Linked DNA regions of Homo sapiens: region 1 is linked to region 2. Evidence: fine-mapped expression QTL. A gene starts in region 2. The other region holds a variant in brackets. All regions are shown on one strand. Distances are from middle to middle.

Region 1 (8,332 bases), 240 kb before region 2:
CAGGGGAGATGTTTTTCTCCCTTCTATTCAGTGTCAGGTTTAAGGCAGGCAGGTGGGGCACTGATTTATTTTGAATTCACCATTAGACTGAATTGTAGCCTTTGGGTTTCAGGTTTATGGGTTGATGCTGGGGGTATGGTCCCCTACTGGACTTCCCACTGTTGACAAGCCCCCTCGGTTTGTGGAAATTGAAGCTCAATGTAAAGGCTGACATCAGTATAAGGCTTACCTCTCTGGGTGCCTGCTTCTCATGATTTTAGGCTTTTGAATTTACCTTTCATTCTTTTCCAGTTTATTAATGCATTTACAAAGAGGTTTTAAATCTTTTGTCTGAATATTTGTTGTTGTCTTTACTGAGAGAACTAATCAGTAAACTACTCCACTATACTTCATAACTGAAGTCTGTAATGTTTGAAAACAATATAGTTTTCTATATTAGTGAAGCTAGCTGAACAAATTTATGGTTTGTTAACAACAGTACAAAAGCAGTTGAATTAACACAATTTATGTAAACATGCACTCTTACTGGCCCATGCTAGATGTGGGTCAATTTTGAGAACATCAGTGAAGTCCACAAGGACAGGTACTTAACAAATGGCGCCATGGAGTGTGCTTAGTCGGGGTACATCTCAATACATGTCCCACATTTTCATCACTGTGATGGTTCTCAGTGCTGATCCCAATCGCTTCATGAAAAAAGAGAAAATGGACCCAAACATTCCCAATGTTAGACCACTGACCACTACGACATTTCGGGCTCTGGGATTTATCCAGTGCTTTGTAAAATTCTAGGAAAACTGAGTCTTCTTGGTGAGCGTAATTCACTTTCAGCTTAGTAAGTTCCCTGGAAATGAGACCCCACTGATAGGGAGGAAGCCTGGTTATTTATTATAAATACATTCTCAAGTTTATACATAAAGTGGTTAAGAGCACTCAAGCCAGACTACCAGACTTGGAGTCTAGGCTCCCCCACTTAAAAGTGGTTGCCTCTTCCCTGTGCCTCAGTTTTCTCATTTGTGAAATGGGGATAATACTAGAAACTATCCCGCAGGTTTGTTGTAAGGCTTGAATGCATGAGTACGTGTGAAACACCTGGAATGTACCTGGAACACAGAGGTGAACTTCAAAAAGGTAAGCATACAGAAACTTAGAGCAAGATTCAGACTTAACAAAACCTGAGAATTTATCCTAAAATATGACTTTATGTCCATCACATAGCATTGCATTCATTGCATTGCTTTCTTTTCTTTTCTTTCTTTCTTTTTTTTTTTTTTAAAGACGGTCTCACTCTGCCACCTAGGCTGGGGTGCAGTGGCACAATCGTAGCTCATTGCAGCCTTGAATTCCTGGGTTCAAGCAATCCTTCTGCCTCAGGCTCCCGAGTAGCTGGAACTACAAGCACACACCACCATGCCCAGCTAATTTTTAAATTTTTTTGTAGAAACAAGGCCTATGTTGCTCAGGCTGGTCTTGAACTCCTGGCCTCAAGTGATCCTCCTGCCCTGGCTTCGCAAAGCATTGCAATTACAGGCATGAGCCACCGTGCCTGGCCTGCATTTCTTTATGATTAGTGATTTTATTGTGCTCAGAATAGTCAAACAGTAAGAAATGAAAGCAGGTTCCAGTAGTCAGTCACCTTGTCCATGTGGGCAGCTTAAGTTCAACCCGGACATCGACATTGTTTCAAACAAGATTAGAGTGTTTACAAGTCTTGTCACATCAGTAAGACCTGAGGTCTGATGTGTTGGGGCCTTCAAAGCCTTTTAATTCTCCATGGTCCTTCATCTGGGGAATTAGTTCAGTAAATATTTCTAACAAGTTTCCATGACTACACCACCCAACAGCATCAACATAAACAATGTCTCCACACTCTGCTTCATCTTCCAAAATTTCAGTAAACACAATAGTTGAAGCATGAGAACAACAACAACAAAAAACTTCACAATTTTGGTGGCTTCCTTTATGATATGATGCAATGAACGTGATTTGCAATGTGCACAGTTTATACTCTTCAAATGAATAATATGGTGCAAACTCTTTGCATGGGAAGAAACTGCTGAGACCCCTCTTCCCCCATCTCTCCCCTCATTGCAGGTGTCCTATCTGCTAGCAGTGAGCTCAGTTTTTGCATGTTTATAGCCACACTCTCTTTTTAACAAGCTCTTCTTAGTTTTGGTTACGTTCTCGTTTTGTCAAGTCTCCTGTGACCTGCCTTTCAGGGCCAGGAGTCGCATGTTCCTCCCTGGTCTCATGGAGGAAGGGAGAGAGGCACCTTCCTAAGTATGAACCTTGCTTTACGTTTCTGAATTTTTCTTGTTTTCTTTGTTAATATTTGTTGAGCATTTACTATGTGTCAGGCACTATTCTAGGTGCTTTTCATGTAATTCATTCTGTCGGGAAGGCAACAAGCTCCTTAAGCTACATTTGCCTTTTTTGAATGGGTCAGGAGCAAAGGAAGAGTGAGAGGCCCAAATAAAAATTATTATCTGCCTCTAGACATGTGCTGGACATGGCCTTACTCTGTGCCTCCTGTCTCTGTGGATGGCTCCACTCTTCACTCACCATGGGAGGCAGAAACTTAGAAGTCATATGAGACCTTCCTCCCTTCCCACAGCCCATCAATTCCTGGTCTCACGGCCGCAGCCCCATTGGCTTATCTCAATCATAGCTATTTTCACATTGATCTGTAACCCTCTGTCTTCCCTGTTAGGACACAGACTCTCTTTGATCTCTGAATACCCAATTCCATAGCAGGCCCTCCAAAGACACTGGCTGAATGAATGAACGAATGAAGTTCTGTCGTTTCTACCTAAGAATTTCTTGAGTTATCCTTCTCCCCTCACCCCATTGACTGCCCAACATAGGGTCCTACTCTTCTCAACAGAACTCTTACAGTAACTTCCTAACTGATGTTCCCTCTCTCCACTTTGCCCTATTCCCACTCACTTTCCTCATTGTCTTGAGGGTTATCTCTCTAAAGGACAAATCAGAGTGTGCCTTTGCTCTGATTAAACCCTTCAGTGCTTCTCATTGCCCTGGGGATAAAGTCAAGGCATCATCTCTTGTCTCTGTCTTTCCTGAGCCCTGTGTCTAGCCATATGAATGGTAGTGTACGTGGTATGGGTGTGTATTTAGGCCCCAGTTCCTCTGCACGTGTGCCTTTTACCTAGGATGTCACTGCCTTTTCTCTGCCTGGAAATCTCCTGTCCATCCTTTGAGCCCCAGCTCAAATGTCCTTTGATCTGTGAAGACTTCTGGGACCCTACAGCCTCCACCTTTAGAGGATTAGATCTCTATTTGAGCATTTGTGGGCTGGCTGTCATAGTTTGCTCACGTATCTATGCCTCCATCTCTCCCCACCTGACTAGATTTTCAGTCCCTGAAGAGCACAGTCCTGAGCTCGGTATCCCTAGCTCCTTGGCAGGCTTCAAAGAATACAAGAGGGAAGGAGGAGGGAGATCCCATCTTCTATGAACAGTGAAAACTGTTGTCGATCCAAAGG[G/T]TCTGGAAGAAAAGCCTGCATCGACCCTGTGACTGACAGATCTGCTGAAGACAGCCCAGCCCTCAAACGTAGGCTTGACGCCAACCTCCTTCTTCTCATCTCCCTTCTTCAACCCTCTCCTCTCATTCCTTCCTTCACGCCCTTCTTCCCTTCCTCCCTTTTCCCTCTTTCTGTTTTATTCACTTTCCTTTCCTGCCTTCTTTCCATTGCTGTTTCACTTTGGCATTAATCATATATTGCACAAACCATATTATAGCAATATTAATGGAAGTAAGTAAATAATAGTGCCCCCACAATTCTGCTACTCCAACAAATCAGATTGGTTTCATTTGTCTATATTGCCTTCCCATGTCTGTATGCCCACATCATTTTGCATAGTTGTCATCATAATGTAGTTTTAATTTTGTAGTCTACTTTGTAACTTAATATCAGAAGCATTTTCCATGCTCCTGCATAATCTTCACAATTATTATTGTAATGGCTGAGTAATATTCCATTGAATGGATATGCCAAGTTTTACTTAACTGTTTCCTTTCTGTTGGACAGTTCCAGTTTTTCCCTGTTGCAGAGAGTGCTGTAATAAATAAGCATGTTCTTTTACTTCTTTCTCTTTCTTGCTCCTTCTGTTCCCTTTTTTTTTTTACCTTTTTCTCTCTTCACTTTTTTTTCTTGTATCTCCTTCTGCCTCCTTGACTGCAGCTCTCTCTCCTACAGCAATAATTTGCTTCTGAGTGGATACAGAAATCATCATAGTGGGACCTAGGGTTTTGAGAAAAATTACTAAAAATTTGTAATAAAATGTTCCCAAGGACACTTTTGTTACATTTGTGCCCTTAAAAAGAATTAAATGATAAATCTTTTTGTTCACAAGAGGTAGGAACACAGGACCAGGTGGGACCAGGTAAGACCAAATTGGAGAAGGCTAAAATCTGTGACAGGGACATGTTTATTTGTAGTGGGAGAAAATGAGACACAAATGCCTATCAATAGGGAAATGGCTAAACAAACTATGATGTGTTTATGCTAGAATTATGTATCATTTAGAGATTGCAGAGCTAGATGTACTGACTTGATAAGACTTTTTTAGTGAATCTAGCTGCAGAATATTTGTAGTTTACAATTCATGTAAAAAATAACAAAACCCAAACCCATGATAGTACTACATTTTTTTTGAATATATATATATTTGCATATATAAATGTGTGTATAGGGGTATATACATACTCTTATTTATATGTAATGTAAACATACTTGTGTGTAAATGTACATATACACACACACTTATATTATGCAAATACATAGAAAAATTCCTGGAAATATACACATCAAACTGGTAACAATGGTCACCTCTGCGTTTAGATGAAAGGGTCTTGATTTAGGGAACTGGTTAAATGGAATTTGAGCCTGAACTACAGTGGTTTCACTTTTTTATCAAGGAAAGCGCATTCACATATTGTTTGTATAATGAAACATTAATTGAAAATGTTGCCACTGTTGTGTCTTTCTGCTTACCATCTTGCACTGACCAGCTTCTGATTTAGGGGCTTGCCATCAACAAGTGAAATGTAATAGGAGAATGCTATTAAATATGCAAATGTCCTTTGGGAAGTGTGGGCTTTTTGCTTTTTCAGTTGTAATGTTGGTCTTTTAAGACAGTGCTGGTGGGCCTGGGGCAGGGGAGAACAAGGCCTGCTCTTCCAGGAGATAAGGAGCCCCCCAAATCAGGCATCATCCCAGCCAGTCCTTCCCGCCCTCTCCTGGCAGGTGGAAGTTGGCGGGGGTTGAAGTGTAGTCCCTTGCACTGAGTCCTGGCTGGAGGACAACAGATGGGGCCACACAGCCCTGCTGCTCAGACCGAGGGGAACAGGTGGAGGTTCCAGGGTCAGAGTGTGAATGCTGGCGATTCATGAGTGGTGCAGGTGGGCAGAGTGCCAGCTCAGGGGCAGCGACAGCTGGGCAGCATGTGGGCAGGAGAGGGAGTTGGGCAACGGGGCTGGGAGACTGGGTGGGTCCAGCCATGGAGGAGGAGGTACTAGAGGCCAGAGAACAAGAGAGGGAAAGAGGGGGAAACCCCCTCAGGCTGGACAGGAGTGAGGTCAGAGGTCCCTGGCTGACCTGAGAGGCTTAGGAAGCTGCAGGGTGAGTGGACATGCTGGTAGAGAAGGGTGCCCCTGCTCTGCCTCCTCTCACGTCTCCTTTACCCCCAGCTGTCCCCTACCTAGCCCTAACCTGAGGCATTTGGGCCATTGCAGCAGCTGTGCCAGCCCTTTGGCACTGTCAGGGCATGGGCAGGGGAGGGACGCAGCTGCCACCCACCCCCTTGCAGATAGGGGGTGGGAACGCAAGGAGGTGGCCAGGTTGGAGAAGACTCAAGCACGTGATGGGGCACTGCACTTTTCTCTCCAGAACTACCTGCCCATGTACCCTTCACCCCATTCTCTTTAGTTAGGTGTTAGGGTAGGAAAGGTAATGATCATTATTAGCATTTACCAAACACTCGCTGTAATGCAAGGCACAGTGCTGTTGATTGTATAATGTATCACTGAATCCTCCCAACAGCCCATTAGGAAAGTATTATAATTTCTATTTTACAGATGAGAAAACGGAGGCTTCTTGGTTCAGTAATGTGCACAAAGTCACACACTAAGAAGAGACATAAGTGAGATTTCATGCCAGATTTTTTGGCACTAGAGACCAAACTTAAAACCTTTGAGGAGTATTGAAATAACAGAGAGTTCCATGCCCAGTCGAGGGCCAGCCGTCCCCCAACAAGGGGTAACTTCTGGACGTGGTGGATGGGTCTAAGTTAGCCCTCCTCACTGTGGGAATTGTAGAGCAGCCAGATGAAGTGGGGTGAAAGTAAAGGAGCTGGAAGCCCGGGCCCGGTGACTCACGCCTGTAACCCCAGCACTTTGGGAGGCCGAGGCGGGTGGATCACCTTAGGTCAGGAGTTCAAGACCAGCCTGGCCAACGTGGTGAAACCCCGTCTCTACCAAAAATAGAACATTAGCTAGGCGTGGTGGCAGGCACCTGTAATACCAGTTATTTGGGAGGCTGAGGCAGGAGAATCGCTTGAACCCGGGAGGCGAAGGTTGCAGTGAGCCAAGACCACGCCATTGCATTCCAGCCTGGGCAACAAGATCCAGAGAGGAGGGAAGTGTTCTCTTGGGGCTGGGTTAGATTTGCCTGGAAACGGGAGGAGACAATGCTATGGGAACAAAGCACTTTGGACTGGACGTCAGGAGAGCGAATCTGTCTCTTCCCTCCAAGGGAGCGGGTCTGCTGGGCCTTCTTAGGCGCCGTCCCTTTTGGCCTTTCTGCAGGTGAGCTCAGGAGAGGCTCGGGCAGGTGGGGAGCTGAGGCGCTGCCTGTTTCGTCTGTTCTGGCCCATGATGTCGGGTGAAGCATCTCAGCTGAAGCCTTGCGCAGTGCTCCGCCAGGCGCTATAATGCTGAGCCCAGCTATGGCTCCTCCTTCTTCTCCCTTCCGCGGGAACCCAGCACCTAGCGCGGCGGAGCAGGGAACTCAGGCTGCGGGACTGGGGTCTGGCCCTGCCCAGCTCCTCGCCCACGCCCAGGCTTCCGTTAGGCCAGCAGGGGGACCCCGAGCCCCGGACAACAGCCCTGAGCTGGGCGGCTGCTTCTGGCTCTAGATCCCGCTGCTCAGCCGATCCACCTTCCCCACCTCCCTCCCCCCAGCCTCAGTTTCCTCCTCTGAGAAATGGGAAAATGATTATACTTATTTCACCGGCAATGCTATGATAGTTAAATAATTCTAAACCATAAAGCGTTGTGAGACTTCCTTCTTGTACTCTTGAAGTGTATTATTTTGAACATTGAACATTCAGTCAATGTTTCTTGAGCTCTATGCCCCGGGAGCTATTTTAAGCCCTGGATGAAGTCTGTCCAACTCGGGCCGGGGATAGTGATTGAAATAGAAAAGCTCAGTAAGTGAAGGGCTCCTCTGTGTCTCCCACCCCACTTGACGAGCCAGATGGAGTGAGTGGCTTTTAACTGTAGAGTGGACCCCTCTAGCAAGCTGCTGTTTGCTTTTCTGGTGTGGAAGGTAGGACTTTGGGATGAGCCCACAGAGGACCAGGGAGCCCAGGCCATCCACTACCTCTTTATCCCGACCTGAGGAACGTGCACTTAGCGCAAATTCCCTTCCTTCCATGCCCAGTGCTCGCTGGTGACAGGGTTCAGGGCAGAGGGGGTGAGGCAGATCTGAAGGGAATGATTCTAGACTAGCACTTTGAGTTCTGCTTAACATCAGGGAGTTGGGGCCAGGATAAGACTGGAGCTGAGGGAATGGGCTGAAGCCGGAATCAGTGGCCAAGCCTCTGTGACCAGTTCTGATTCCTGAGTATAATGAGTGAATGCCTAGTGTTTCCACACCTGGCTTCCATCGCTGCTGGGAGGGGCTTCACTCAGAGAAATAACTATGAGAATGTGTACATGGTGGGCTCTCCTGCAGGCTCTCAGGGGACCCAGGGATACTGGCTGAGGACAGGGGCCATTTCATCCCAGTTAGCTTTTTACTGAGTGGAGCAAAAACTCGTTCCTTCCATGAAGCCTCTGGCTTCAGTCTCAGCCCTTACACCCCAGGACATGGTCCATGAAGCACCTAGTTAGGACTTCAGAAGGATGAGGTGATGGTTCACGTGGAAGATGTTGCTTTTCAGTTCCTTCTGTTTCGTTCCCTCAGTGGGCTGCAGACTCTCTGAGTGGGCTATTGTGATGAACTGGAAAGAACCTTGGAGTGGAAATCAGGAGGCCTGAGCTCACGTTTCAGCTCCAGCACTCAGTGGTTTCAGGCCTCTCCTTGAGCCTC
Region 2 (8,332 bases):
TCAGCTTGGAGAAGACCTTCCTGCCCACCTTATCACTGGTGATCTGGTTGCCGTGGAGAGCAATCCAGAGCAGCCCTGTGGCATTGTCAAAGACGCCTTCCTGGATGGAGGTGATCTGGTTGTTCTGGAAGTACACATACTTCATGCGGGAGGGAACGAAGGGCAGGTACTTGAGGTTGCGATTGTCACAGTACATGGCCGTGGGGAAGTTGGGTGGGCAGTCGCACTCCTGGGGGCAGTCGCGGGGATCTGGAGGGGATGGAGAGCCGTAGGTGTAGGCTGGCCCTTCATCCACCCCATAGGGGTAAGGCTCGTAGGTCTCATACGGGTAAGGGTCATAGGGATCGTAGTAGGTGGACTGCTGGCTGCGGAGGTAGTGGAACCACCAATGAGGGTCATCTTCATACTGGGCCTGGGAGAGGGAGAAGAGCCCTGCCAGCAGCAGGAGGGAGGTCCACTGCATTTTGTCTCTGCAAGAAGCGGGAGAGAACAGAGCAAGCCAGCATGAGTGAGACTCCACAGAGGCAGTGAGGCAGAGTAGGCAAGCCTTAGGCTTTGAGCTATGCAGAGCTGACTTCCATGTCAAACATCTGAGAGCAGGAGCCTTGCTCTCATTTCTTCGGTGCCTCCTCCCAGTCTGGTTCTGCACTTGGTCCAGCCGGACCATGGCTATTTGGGGTGAGCTAAGTGCATTTTCCCCTGGTCATAGAGTCACAGACAGAATGTCTTTGAATGGGAACAGCTGCATTTTTTTTTTGGAGGGGCAGATTCTTAGGAGCCTCTAGCACTCTGAAAGTCCTGTGGGAAAGCTGAAAAGCCCACAGCAATCCCTGTGTTTGTGGTGTGGTGGTAAGGATGGTAGTGGGATGCTCTTCAGATCTGAACCCAAATCCAGTTTGGATGTTCCGGGGAAATAGTATTTTTCTAAGAGTCCAAGGAGAAAGCCCTAGGATGGGAGACCTCCAGAAGCCGCTTGACGCATCGAAGGGGAAGAGCTGAACTACATCTGGAAAATCTTTTGGTCTCTTGGGCAGGCTGGGAGTTTTTGGTCTTGAGTGTTTGGGGAGGAGTGTGGTCCCTCTGCAGCCACCACAAGGCTCAGGTTGCCCTCCAAAGTGCCATCATCTGTAACAGTCTGCTGAGTGAGGAAACTCACTGGTTAGCAGTTTGTGGCTACACATGCAACTTGGCTGGGACAGGGTCTTCATGCAGCAGTTACAAATCCTTTCCAGACTGAGGACCCTGGCACTGGGTGTGGCACTTGCCTTCTAAAGCAGGTACTCAGTGTGTGAAGTCTGAGTTAATCTGCTTCTCTCTTCCATGGTGCCTAGTAAGGTGTTAGCACTCCTCATGCTCCACCATGGGCATCATGCAAGAGCCATGTGGGGCCAAGAGAAATGAATGAGGGACACCAAAAGAATAGCTAGAGATTGGAAACTCTTGTGTATGCTCAAGGGAAAGCAGCTTGAGGTAGGACCCTGACATTCTCCTCTCCTTTCCCAAGCTACCTGCTCCCAGCGATGACACCTAGATGACCAGGCTCTGTGTCTAGGTCCCCACATTGCTGGAAACCTGTTGCTTTTGAACCTGTTGTGCTAATGAGATAGGAACAGGGCAGACTGAAGAGGAAATGTGGGTCTGATGTCATCTGAGAGGGAAACTAAAGGTATGGAAGGTAAGAGACTAGGGGTGGCCTGGGTACCCTACCCTGGTTACCTATAGCCAATGCATGACATACTCCTGTGAGCAGTGGGCATCTTCCTGAGTGTCACCCTTGGACAGAGAAACCTTAGAATCTTTCTTGGCCTGGAAGAGTCACATACAGCCCTCACATTGCTGTTGGGCCTACTGGGGTTGGCAACTGTAAACAGAAGAAAGAAAGGAGTATAAAAGCCAACATCATCAGATCCAGTGAACTGATGGGAAAGACCCCAACTATGACACTCAACAGAGTTACCTCCTGACCACCATCCATCCCAGACCTCTCTGTCCCCTCAAAACAGTTTCCTTGGGCCCACTTCATCCCATCAGTTCCTAGGTTGCAGAGGAGCAGGCACCCTGGCTCATCCACAGGCAGCCTCAGGCCTCAGACAAAGAGCCACAGTGTTTTGGAGAAGCTGACCCAACTGCCCACTGCCTGGGCAAGCTGGCTGGTTCCTGGCTCTGGCCAGGAGAGAAGACGAATGGAGCGGCCCACTGCCAACAGAGCATTTTTCCATGCACAGCCCTGGGCTGTTGCAGGACCAAGGTGGCTGTCTGGAGGGCTGGCACAGTGAGCCTCTGTCTCCGTTTCTCCTTCTTTCAGACTGGGCACCTTGGCAGACAAGAGCCACCTTCCCCTTCAGACTCAGCTTTCTAGGGGCTGTGCACCCTGCCCACTTCAGCCTCTTCTTAGAGCCATGGGTGCTGAAAGGGTTTGATGGGGAGCTTATGCCTCTCCTTACCCCATCCCATCTCTTAGCAATGTTGCTTCAGGGTTGCATAGTCTTACACTGTTTCCCATAATGCTAGAGGCCCTCCTGTGCTCAGAGTTTCTGTAAGGTCGAAAGTTTCCAGGACTGCCACACTATCAGCTGGGGGAAGTTTACTCAGGAGCTACTGCTGTTCTTTCATTTCTCCACTCTAGAGAAAGATCTCTCCCTCCTATCAGTGGAGAAGGTCAAGCCAGAGGCCATCCCCTCACCTGGATTGCATCCCCACCCCAATCCACAGCTCCCTGGACATGGCCAGTTCTCAATGCTTCTTTTTATTCTCTCCTTTCCACTCCAAACACACACACACACACACACACACACACATTCTACACAAAAGTTTCCCCCTCTCCCATAATAGCATTTATGTACCAAACCCCTCTATAAGAGAGATTGCAGGGACATCCAGGTCTTGGAATACCCTTCAAAATGCCCACACTCCCAGCATGATGGGATTTATGAGTAGCAGGGAAGAAGCTTCCCTAGACAGAGGGTCCTTCACTTTTTCATGCCTGAGAATTGGAGGTCCCCTCAGCACCCATAAAGGAACTGTAAGAGAAAGGTACAGGGCTGGAACCCCTCCCTTATACACCCTCTCTGCCACTCTCCAGCATCCCTGGGGTCATGGCCCAGATGTGGAGAAGGAGGAATGAACCCTCCCTGCCTCCCCATCTCCCCTATCCCCTACCACTTTTCCTTTATTTCTTTTAAGGAACTGCTAGGGACAAACCCGAAGTAAAACGACTATACTTACCTCAAGTTGAACTTTTCAGAGAGTGACCACGTCCCTCTGTCTGGCCTCCTTGGGTTGGAGAACGTGTGAGAGAGGAAGAGAGAGAGGAGTGAAAGAGTCTACTGAGAGTGTGCGTGCCTGTGCCAGACCAGGGTCCCGCCCCAAATTCCTAATCAAATATTGTGAAAAGGGGCTGAGGAACCCGGATCCTGGTTTTTTTCAGCTCTGCTGCAGGGGCGGAGTTCACGCTCAACCACGCAAATCCTTCGGTCCGCCTGACGCTATAAAAACCACCTTTTTTCCACTCACTTATCTTCCCTGAAACATTGGCAGCCCTGGGTCCCTTTCTGCTGAATGAGTTAGTGGCGCCCTAGAAGTTATTTGTACAGTCTCTTATGAAGCGCCTGGATTTCTCATTAAAGCCACAAAGGCAGATGCAGGGATGGGGAGGGCCAGGGTTTGGTAAGAGACATCTTAACTCCTTCAGCAACCCACATGTCCCTCCAGAGAGCGAGAACTCGCGCTTCTCAGCTCCCCCTATAGACAGGTCATCAGGCTAGTGGATAAGGGAGCATGAATGACAAGGGACAGCCGGCTCTGGTTCCAGTTCTATCCCTAAGCAGTGTAGACTTTTCTAGGCTACAGGTCCTGCCCACCTCCACCACTGGAACAAAAGGAAAGGCAGGGACTCCAGCATTTGCTGATCACTGCTTATGCACTAGCATCATCCACTTCCACTTAATGCTCACAACAAATTCAGAGTTAATAACACTTACCTTGCTGGGTTGTAGCAAGGACTGTATCAGGTGATGTGTGGGAGGCTCCTGACCTGGCACATAGCTGAGGTTCACTGTGTCCTACCCATTTCACAGCCATAGAATTCCTCAGCCAGGGAAAGACAAGATCAGAAAGCTGGGCAGGAGCTGTACCATGAAAGGACTTTTGGGCGATGGAAGTGATTTGGTTTTTATTCTAAATGTTTTTGTTGTTGTTGTTGTTGTTTGTTTGTTTGAGAAGGAGTCTCAGCTGGGCGTGGTGGCTCATGCCTGTAATCCCAGCACTTTGGGAGGCCGAGGCAGGAGGATCATGAGGTCAGGAGATCGAAAAGGAGTCTCGCTGTGTCGCCCAGGCTGGAGTGCAGTGGCACAATCTCTGCTTTCTGCAACCTCCGCCTCCCAGGTTCAAGCCGTTCTCCTGCCTCAGCCTCCTGGGTAGCTGGGACTACAGGCACACGCCACCACGCCCAGCTAATTTTTTGTATTTTTAGTAGAGACAGGGTTTCATCATATTGGTCAGGCTGGTCTTGAACTCCTAAACACAGGTGATCCACCCACCTCAGTGCCCCAAAGTGCTGGGATTACAGGCGTGCGTCATCCGGTCCGGCCTATTCTAAATGTTTAAAAAAAAAAACATGTTTCAAGCAGGAGAAGCCATGGGATCTGATTTGCATGGGATCTAATTTACATTTTAAAAGCATGTAGGAGGGGCTGCTGTATGGAGAAGGGGAGGCCAGGGTGGAAGCAGGGAGGCTCCAACCCAGCCTCAAGGAGAGGTAATGGCAGATTGGACTGGTGCAATGGAAGAGAAGATCTTATATTTTAGACAGAGAACTGACAAGTCTTGCAGAGTTAGGAAAAGTCAAGGATGATTCCTAGAATTTTAGTTTGAGCAACTGGGTAGGTGGTGGTAACATTTCTTGACATGGGAAAGGTGACGTGGGACTGAGTTGGGTAGAAAACCAAAGTTACATTTTGGATATGCTGTTAGAGATGCCTGCTAGGCATTCCCCTGGAGATGCACGTAGACCGTTGGACATATGAATCTGAATCTGGAGTTTAGGGGCTGGAAGAAAACATTTGAGAACCATTATAATGTGGGTCACACAGAATCTCAATAGCTTAGATAAACTCATGTGTCCTAAATGTTCTCTCCTCAAGTATGTTAACTGGCTTATGCCAACATCAAAGAAACACCTTTATCTTAAAAAAATACCAACTGAGAAACCCTGAGATGACTTGAATTTGAAGAATTTAGAAGTGTCGAGGCAGATGGTCCTTTTGGTTTCTCCAATAGGTTTGAGCTTTTGACTTAGCGTGTGGGCTGTCAGAAAGGGCCTTGTCAGGGACCCATTCTCAGAATTTAAGAAGAGATTTCAAAAAGATGAAACCTAATGAATGAGCCTTTTCTGACCACCTACTATAGACTAGGTGGTTTACTTATGTTATCAAAGATAACAGTAGATATTTTGCATTGGAATTAGTGTTTTTTTTTCAAAGCTACTTTTAATACTTTGGGGTGAGCCCCACAGGAATAAAAAAACACTGGGAAGGGGTAACCTCCCACCCGCCACTTCCAGGAGGGGCCAGGGGGAGAGAGGCTACGTGAGGGGAAGGAAGCACAAAAGGGACCCGCTGCAGACTCAGGGCAAAAGGAGGCCATGGGTGCGGGGACCTGCGGGCACTGCAGGAGGAAACGTGAGGGTGGTGGGACTGGCTCCAGTCACATAGGCGAAGGGCAGGAGGGTTGGACATGAAGCCACAAAGCTACTCGGGTTCCTCCTTCTTCTCTTTTGCCTTCTTCTGCTCCTGCTGCTTGGTCTCTGAGCTCCTCTGCTTGCCGCAGCAGCAGAAAGCCCGTCATCTCGACGTTTTCCCTTAACTGAGTCACTCTGCTTTTTCCTATTTTTCTAGCCAGTAAGCTCATGCTGGTTACTGCGGGTCATGGTGACAGCAGTGGCTCCGACCTGCCTCTGTTATGTCACCTCATTCTGTCAGGATTTTTTTTTTTTTATTTTTGACCCTGCTTTCAGCCAAGGAATTAGGGTTTTAGTGATATAAAGTGACTAGCTGGTAAGTGGCAAAACAAGGATCTGAACCTTGGTCTACATGACTTGAAAGCCCACACACTTTTCTCTAACTCTAGCACAGAGGATTGGCAAAGTGGAGGGGCAATGACTACCCTGCTGTCAGGCTGGCCTCGACTAAGATGAAGCTTAATTAATTACGATTGACCAATCTGCCTGAATCTGGGGGCAGGGGGGTTTTAAAGTGAGATGGGGCTGGGGTATAGGGGTTCTCTTCCTCATCCCACCCATATTTCATTTCCGTTTAATAAATTTGAGCATCTACTATGTGTTGGGCATGATCCTAAGTGTTGGAGACACAAAGAAGGCTTCGGTATAATGCCTGATTATAATAAAGCAGATCTGAATGTAGCAAACTCTGACCTCATGAGTGAAGCAGAATGGCCTTACTGTGAAAATGCTTATGAATAATGCACAGATAACTTTCTAGTCATTTTTGAGTCCAGAAAGCAGTCACCTTTCAGTGGAGGACACTGATCTTGGCAACCGAGCCTGGGAAACACTTTTAAATGAGCCTAGATAGCCTGGACAGATTCACCATTGGGTACAGATGTTTATTTTTTTAAATTCCAGCATGCTGACTAATTCTGCATTTACTAACAATGAAAGTTACTAAAGTCTGGGAACCAAATAGTGACTGGATTCTTCCCAACCGGGCACCACCAAAAAGACAGTATCTCCATGGGGTTTTTTGGCCATTTCTAAAGTGGTGAGATGTGCACCAGGTCTTTAGCTATCCATCCTGTTCCAAGGCAGGCCTGGGATGAAGGAAGGATGGAAGGGATGATTGGGACCAGGTCAGAAGGCAGAGTTTCAGGGAACCACCCACTGTTCAAAAGTTCTTTTCTCTAACCTTTAGTGGAGGTTTCTACCTCCATTTTGGCCACTGCTGCTTTGTTTGCCTGGTTCCTGGATCTAGGCCCTCAGAGCTTGCCTTCAACATGGGAAGCCAAGAATGAGATATTGATGTCCACCAGATTGCTTGCTGAGGGAGTCCACATGTGAAGGAGGACACCAGTATCTTCTAGGGGGTGTCTAGCCAGCACTATGCAGTCACTAGACTGAAAATAAACTAAAGAGAAAGGCAATGTCATGCATTTCTGTAGCCCCTGTCCCAGCTGGGCACACAATGCGTTGGCACTTAGTAGGCAATCAGTAAAGGGTTATGAAAGGAATTGTATTTTTGGCTCCCCACAGAGTATGTCTGTCTTCAGTACTCAATGCTGGGTGGAAAAACCACCACCAACCAGGCCAGGAAAACCTTTAGACTTTCCAGGGGTTCAGGCCACTGCTATTTCCTCCCTACCCAGAAAAGTACAGGTTAAGCCACAATCACTAGGCAAAGCTCATTGCCTCTGATGCTGGACCCACCCTGTCTGGGAGAAATGAAGTCCCTTCTGACTCAAGTTCCCACCAGCAAAGACACAGTGACGTTCTTGTGGCCACCAACCCTTTTCTTCCTCTTCATCCCCCACAAGACTCAACAACCCTTGTTTTTATGATCCAGCCTCTGATCCCAGATAACTCAGGGAAGGTGGAGGGCAAGAGGGTGTGACTGAAAACCCACCCAACCAGATTTCTTGAATTGAATATACAGAGGTCAGCAGAAAGATGACCATGGCGATATTATATAATCCAGACCCCGCTGCTGGCCCATCCTGAAAACTCTTGACGCCAGCGAGGGAGTTTTTCCTAGTCTGATGTTTCAATGGAAATTCTTGGCTACATTGGCACCCAACAATGGTGTCCCAAAGCTTCCAAGAGAGATATTTTCTCCTATTCCCTTGGCACCAAAGGGCCATTAGAAGTCCTCATCATGGAGAGTGTCCTCTTTCCAGAAGGATGAGAGCCATGAAGATGTTGGAGCTGGAGAAAGACTTGTTTTCTTTGAACTGCAATAGGAGAAAGACCTCAACTTCCAAGTTCTAGAAGATGCCTGAGGGCTTATAATTTCCTTTTAGCAATAAGCTGCTTAAAAAGAAGGTAGAGAACAACCTTTCTCTTTTAATGGATAGCATCTCTTATTTTTACTGTGTGTTTACTGCATGCTTGATATTGTTAACATGATGATGACATGATGGATCCCAGAAGACCACTTTCTAGAAGGTATGAGTGTATTTGAGTCAGGAAAGGGGGGCCGTTCAGGGAGAGATACCTGAATAAGGAAGGAGGCAGAGGGGATAAATTAAAACCTGAAGGCTAGAGGATTTGGCCATTCAGTGACTCTGTACATGATGTTCACCTTTGTTCTGCAAATGAGCCAAG

What was found. PIP is the estimated chance that this variant, and not a neighbour inherited with it, causes the effect. A credible set is the group of variants that fine-mapping cannot tell apart.
Region 1: its variant is the best candidate, but not a certain one, in a credible set for the expression of FMOD in minor salivary gland (GTEx, PIP 0.87).

What each region holds. Positions count from the first base shown.
Region 1 is chr1:203,110,898-203,119,229 of GRCh38, forward strand. No RefSeq gene overlaps it. Among named protein-coding and RNA genes, the nearest start is that of ADORA1, 13 kb to the right of the region's middle. The variant G/T (reference allele first, on the strand shown) is at 3,503.
Region 2 is chr1:203,347,808-203,356,139 of GRCh38, forward strand. It overlaps FMOD (fibromodulin), which reads right to left and starts at 3,315. Exons shown (of 3, transcript NM_002023.5): 1 at 3,226-3,315; 2 at 1-470. The coding sequence starts at 463. It also overlaps the pseudogene LOC100131747.